Linked DNA regions of Homo sapiens. The protein of the gene in region 1 interacts with the protein of each later gene in a pairwise test. Each region holds a gene or a part of one and is shown on either strand. Other genes may lie near its edges.

Region 1 (3,654 bases):
GAAATGTTCAGTTCTCAACCAAAAATTTTGAGATGTGCAAATGAACTGGAAAGTAGGATCCAGTTCACAGACTCTGACTCTCAGGGCCCACATGCAGAATTTATCAAATATTTCAAGAAAACTACTATGAATATATTGTAAGAATGAAAGGAGGCCGGGCATGGTGGCTCATGCCTGTAGTCCCAGCACTTTGGGAGGCCGAAGCGGGCAGATCACTTCAGGTCAGGAGTTCGACGAGATCAGTTTGGCCAACATGGCAAAACCCCGTCTCTACTAAGAAGACAAAAATTAGCTGGGTGTGGTGGCGGGCGCTGTAATCCCAGCTACTCGGGAGGCTGAAGCTACTTGGAATGTGGAGTTTGTAGTGAGCTGAGATCACGCCGCTGCACTCCAGCCTGGGTGACAGAGTGAAACTCTGTCTCAAAAAAAAAAAAAAAATTAGCACTTAGGGAGGCAGAGGCGGGAAGATCACCTGAGCCCAGAAGTTTGAGACCAGCCCAGCAACATAGTGAGACCCCACTCTTCACAAAAAGGAAAATGAACAAAAAAAATTAACTCAAAATGGGGCCAGGTGCAATGGCTCATGCCTATAATCCCAGCGCTCCGAGAGGCTGAGGTGGGAGAACTGTTTGAGGCCAGGGGTTCGAGACCAGTCTGGGCAACATAGTGGGACCTGGTATCTGCAAATAATAAAAAAAACTGGCCGGGTATGGTGGCACGCACCTGTGGTCCCTGCTACTCAGGAGGCTGAGGTGCTTGAGCCCAGAAGCTTGAGCCCAGAAGCTCAGGGCTGCAGTGAGCTGTGATTGTACCACGCGCTCCAGCCTGGGTGACAGAGTGAGTCTGTGACTCAAGACAAATAACTTGGATGTTCAAGGGTTCTGGAGAAAGAATAAAAATACCAAACTAAAAATGGATCATAGATCTAAATGAAAAATGCACAGAAGTTAAACTTTAGAAGAAAATACAAGAAAAATCTTTGTGATCTGGTGATCACAAAGAGTTTTTAGAAATGACACCAGAAGCATGTAGCTCTACACTGGGGGAGAATACCTGCAAATTACATACCATCAGAGGACTTGCATCTAGAACATATAAAGAACTTTAAAAACTCAAGTTGAAAAAAAAAATGGGCAAAACACCTGAGCAGTTATTTCTAGTATACCAAGAGGGTATACTGGGCTGGGCACCGTGGCTCACGCCTGTAATCCCAGTACTTTGAGAGGCCGACGCAGGCGGATCGCCTGAGGCCAGGAGTTTGAGACTAGCTTGGCCAACATCTTGAAACCTCATCTCTAATAAAAAGATAAAAAGTTAGCCGGGCATGGTGGGGTACACCTGTAATCTCAGGTGCTCAGGAGGCTGAGGCAGGAGAATCACTTGAACTCGGAAGCAGAGGTTGTAGTGAGCCAAGACTGCACCACTACACTCCAGCCTGGGAAACAGAGTGAGACCCTGTCTCAAAAACAAACACACAAAAAGGGTATACTAATAGTAAATGTACACATGGAGGGTCTTCCTCAGTAAGAAACCAACCCTTCGACACGCTGATTTTGGATGTCTGGTCTCCAGGGCTGAGAGAACATTTCTGTTGTCTTAAGCCACCTGGTTTGTGGCGATCACTTCTGCCCTGACAGCAGTGTCCTTTGAGGAGATGGCGAGTGTGAGTGGTCAGGGCTGTGCTGTGACTTGCTGTGGTGGGGAGAGGGGCACGGAGGGGCAGAGTGGCCCCGGGAGACCCATTAGGAAAGTTTCATGGTGAGTCCATAGTGGTTTAGACAGGGGTGGTGCCTGCATGACAGAGGAAGAGGAGGAGGAGCAGCAGCAGGACCAACATGGGTCAGGGCGTGGCGGGTGGTGGTGCTGACTGTGGCTGGTCTGCTTCTGGTTTGCACACCAGAGGCTGGAGGAGGGCCCTCAATGGAAGCGACCAGCAGGCAGCTGGGGATGAGGGTCTGTAACCCAGGAGGTCTGGAGTTGCTGAGGTGCAGACAGAAGAGGAAGAGGAAGACGAAGAGGAGGACAAAGAGAAAGCAGGAGCAGAAATGGCACCATCTAGAGAGAGAGTGGGAGGTGGGGACAGGGACCGAGAGGAGCCCTGGGGACCGCCAGCTACAGAGAGACAAATGCAAATGGATATCGAGGAGGTGCAGTCAGAGGCAGAGGGAAGCCAGAAAGTGTGGGGCTCAGGAGAGCGGCTGGGGATGCCAGAAGCTACCGAGGGGCCCAGCAGGAAAGGACTAAAACCGTCCCTGGACTTAGTGACCTGGAGGACCCTGGCGGCCTTGGCAGAGACATTCTGTGGATACGTGGCAGGAGGCTAAGAGCGCAGGCCGGGTCCCAGAGCAGAGTACGATGGAGAGAATCAACTAGAAAGGCTGGAGGACCGAGCTGTGGGAAGGAACTCCGGTGGCACGCCCAGAACACCGACATGTGTAAGTGAAAACAACCTTCTTACCCGCGGTGTGTGGAAATAGAAGCCAGAATGGTGTATCTGTTAGAGAAATAAATGGAACCTAAGAGCCATTAAATCGGTGTGGTGGTTAATGCCGCATCACTTCCTGTTTGATGCAGACAGGAAAAAGAATATGTGTATATATATATTTTTTGAGACGGAGTCTTGCTCTGTCACCCAGGCTGGAGTGCAGTGGTGCGATCTTGGCTCATGGCAACCTCTGCCTCCTGCGTTCAAGTGATTCTCCTGCCCCAGCCTCCCGAGCAGCTGGGACTACAGGTGCCCGCCACCATGCCTGGCTAATTTTTGTATTTTTAGTAGAGACGGGGTTTCGCCATGTTGGTCAGGCTGGTCTCGAACTCCTGACCTCAGGTGATCCACCAGCCTCGGCCTCCCAAAGTGCTGGGATTACTACTGGTGTGAGCCACCGCACCTGGCCTGAAAAGCACCTTTTCTTTCCCTAATACTGTGTTTTACCTCACATAATAATATTCTGATGAATACAAGTGAAAAAGGAAACTGCCTCCAGGACCCCTTTTCTGGCTCTTTCCTTCCATTCCTCAGGCAGACAGGCAGCCCCAACCTGCAGCTCTGGCCGAGTCAGGCAGGGACTTCCTAGACCAAAGGCCTTTCCATGTTGTGCTGAGCTGCGCTGCCTGCACCCCAACCATGGGCCCGCTGCACCCACCCCTGGGCACAAGCCTGGCCCAGCCTGCAGCCCCTGGACCCCACACCTGGCACCAGGTAACTTCCATTTCTGCCACTCACCTCCATGTGTCCAAATGTCTGCACCAAGGGAATCACCTCCAGCTCATTGAGTCCAGCCAGATGCAAGATCTCTTTGATTTCAGAGGGGCTGGAGAGACAAAATTCATAGAGAGAGGGTCATGTGAGCAGCACGTGACTTCCACACCCACCCCCCCAGCCCTTCCTCATCAGGCCCTGGGGGGCTCTCCGGGAAACAGTAAGGCCCTAAACTCCACAAAGCTTGACAGGTATCCTGATTTCTGGAAAGGTACCTGCTCCAAAATTTGGGAAGATGATGTTCTAGCACGTCCTCAAGTAATGGTTCGCTTTTCAACCCACGACAAGAGAATGAAGTCATCACATTTTACAAGAAACTACTCAAGGCCAGGCACAGTGGCTCACGCCTGTAATCTCAGCACTTTGGGAGTCCAAGGCCAGCAGACCACTTGAGG
Region 2 (2,695 bases), on another chromosome or scaffold:
ATGGAGGTGCCATGCGGGTGGCTGGCATCTCCCTGGCCTATAGCAGTGTCCAGGATGTGCAGAAGGTATTCAGGGCGGGCTGGCTTCTGGGCTGTCCCCTTCCTCTTCTGCAGCAGGGCTTCTGTGACAGCAGGTCTCCTCCTCCCTAGTTTGCCCGGCTCTCGGCCCAGCTGACACACGCCTCCTCCCTGGGTTACAATGGCGCCATCCTGCAGGCCCTGGCTGTGCACCTGGCCTTGCAGGGCGAGTCTTCCAGCGAGCACTTTCTCAAGCAACTCCTGGGCCACATGGAGGATCTGGAGGGTGATGCCCAGTCCGTCTTGGATGCCAGGGAGTGAGTATGGGGCTGGAGGTGTGTGGTGTGGGTATGTGGGTGATCCAGGGGGCCTCTGGCATTGCCGCAAACTGTAAACCTTCCTCAATTGCAGACCCTAGGGAGGCATGGGCAGAAGCCCCTTTATCTTGTCTATGTTTCAAGGCTCTCAGGGTCCCAGAGAACGAAACGACCTGCTCACCCCAGCCCTCTCCCACCTCTTGTCGGCACCTGTGCCTGGCTGCCAGCCTGACCACATCCCTGCTCGTTCTCACATGCAGCCCTCTCCCCTGCCCGCGCCACCACCCTGCTAGCTCTGACCTCCCTGAAATCTCCCCTAAACCACAGGTTGGGCATGGAGGAGCGTCCATACTCCAGCCGCCTGAAGAAGATTGGAGAGCTTCTAGACCAGGCATCGGTGACCAGGGAGGAAGTGGTGTCTGAGCTAGGTGAGTGGGTCTGCCTGGGATTGTCTCTCCCTCTGTCGTCCTTCAGGGTCGGTCTTGGGCTCAGGGGAGCATGGAGTCATGCCTGCCGTCGCATTGTACCCTGGGCTGCTGTGACACGGAGTCAATGGCAGGGTTGAGCTCAGCGCTTCTTGCTCTGAAGCTACAGCACCCTCAGCCTTGTGGACCAGTGTCCCCAGAAATGGCAGCTGGCCACTAGTCGTAAAAATGTTGATAATGGATTTTATTTGTCTAGCATCTATACTGGGCGTTGTGCAGAATGCTTCACAGACACGATCTCGCTTCATCCTCACAACAGCCCTGTCAGAGAGTTGCTAACGTTACTCCCTGTCTGCTTAAGGAGTTGAATCTGGGAGCAGGAAGCTTAGCGGTCCCCTAGGTAACTCTCCCAGTCACGCAGCCAGTGTGTGGTGGAGCCAGGATTTGAGCCCAGGTGGTCTAACTGTAGAGCCTGAGATCTTAGTCACAGCCTGCTTGAAGCCGAGAGTGCTGACTTGTGTCAAATGGTAGGAGGCCTGGGGAAGCATGCAGCCCCTCTAACCTGGCTTCCCCACAGGGAATGGCATTGCTGCCTTTGAGTCGGTACCCACCGCCATCTACTGCTTCCTACGCTGCATGGAGCCAGACCCTGAGATCCCTTCTGCCTTCAATAGCCTCCAAAGGACTCTCATTTATTCCATCTCACTTGGTGGGGACACAGACACCATTGCCACCATGGCTGGGGCCATTGCTGGTGCCTACTATGGGATGGATCAGGTGCCAGAGAGCTGGCAGCAAAGCTGTGAAGGCTACGAGGAGACAGACATCCTGGCCCAAAGCCTGCACCGTGTCTTCCAGAAGAGTTGATGAGGGCTACAGCTGTTGGGGCTCTGCCAGGTCCCCTGGGACCAACTACAGCTCCAATCAGAAACCCTGCGCTTCCTTGAGTGTGGCTTCCCACTTTTCCTGCATTGTGGAGCTGACTGAGTACACCGGTGAGGCTGGGGTCTCTGCAGGGGAGGTCACTGGAACAGCGAGCAAGGGACTGGTGCCTCGCTGGTGCTGGGTCTCTGGTTTGCTGCAGAGCCGTAGGACACTCCTGGCTCCTCAGTAGGACAGACAGACGCAGGCGGGTTTATTTTGGAGGGGTACTTGTGGCATTTTCCTGTATTGTCTTGGACATGGGATGTGGGGAGGTGGAAATGATGAGCAGTAGCATCATTTCTCCCTGTTGGGTTTTAGCCAGTTTGCCAGCAAGCGCATCCTAGCAGGGTCCCCGAGCAGCAGGTTGTGTGGATGAAGGGACAGGCACTTGCATCCAGCTGATCTAGGTCACACCTGGCTCTTGGCTGCCATGTGGCTTATTAACAGCTTCCAGTGGAAGTCGCAATAAACAGTTTTTGGTAAATCTCACCACTGTTTCTTGTTTCTCCTGCCCTGAATGGATTCTCCCCTGCCAGCCTGATCTCTGAAGACTAGTGCCTTTGTCTGTGCTGCACTGTCATAGAAGCTGGGGCCCCAAGGCCATGAGCTGCTGTGTTGCCAGGCACTCCAGCTGGCTGCGTGTTCAGCCAGGAAGGGCACAGCAGGCATGGTCTGGTGGCTTTTCCTGTTAGAGATCACTCAAAGTGGCCCAGGCTGCTGGGCCGAGTGCTTTGCCAGAGGCAGCGGGTAGGAACAAGCCAGATTTTTCTGTTCTCAGAGCCTGACTTCCCCAAACAGGAGCTAGGCCCAGCTGGGCCAGGAACAGGAACCCTGTAGAAGGATCCAGAGGGCCCTGCTATCATCAGACTACCAACCTTTGGGTGGGGAGGGCACCATCACGGGGCCCCGGGTGGACTGAGTGCCGTGTGCCTCCTCCTGTATCTTGGGACCAATCAAAAGCCTTTCCCTGCAAGGAAGTTTTACACAGCATGTTTTTAGAGATGGGGTCTCA

What was found. Proteins that work in one complex are often made in the same cells at the same time.
Region 2: the proteins of HEXD (region 1) and ADPRS interact in a two-hybrid assay, tested with the Homo sapiens proteins (one large-scale study listed by BioGRID and IntAct).

The regions. Positions count from the first base shown.
Region 1 is NC_000017.11:82,428,215-82,431,868, reverse strand, and holds part of HEXD (hexosaminidase D), read right to left. Parts: intron 3,617-3,654; exon of another isoform or gene 3,561-3,616; coding exon of another isoform or gene 3,475-3,560; intron 3,312-3,474; coding exon 3,224-3,311; intron 2,436-3,223; exon of another isoform or gene 1,457-2,435; intron 1-1,456. UniProt on the Homo sapiens protein: Has hexosaminidase activity. Responsible for the cleavage of the monosaccharides N-acetylglucosamine (GlcNAc) and N-acetylgalactosamine (GalNAc) from cellular substrates. Has a preference for galactosaminide over glucosaminide substrates.
Region 2 is NC_000001.11:36,091,761-36,094,455, forward strand, and holds the end of ADPRS (ADP-ribosylhydrolase ARH3), read left to right. Parts: coding exon 1-65; intron 66-149; coding exon 150-334; intron 335-661; coding exon 662-762; intron 763-1,336; coding exon 1,337-1,626; 3' UTR 1,627-2,172; downstream 2,173-2,695. UniProt on the Homo sapiens protein: ADP-ribosylhydrolase that preferentially hydrolyzes the scissile alpha-O-linkage attached to the anomeric C1'' position of ADP-ribose and acts on different substrates, such as proteins ADP-ribosylated on serine and threonine, free poly(ADP-ribose) and O-acetyl-ADP-D-ribose.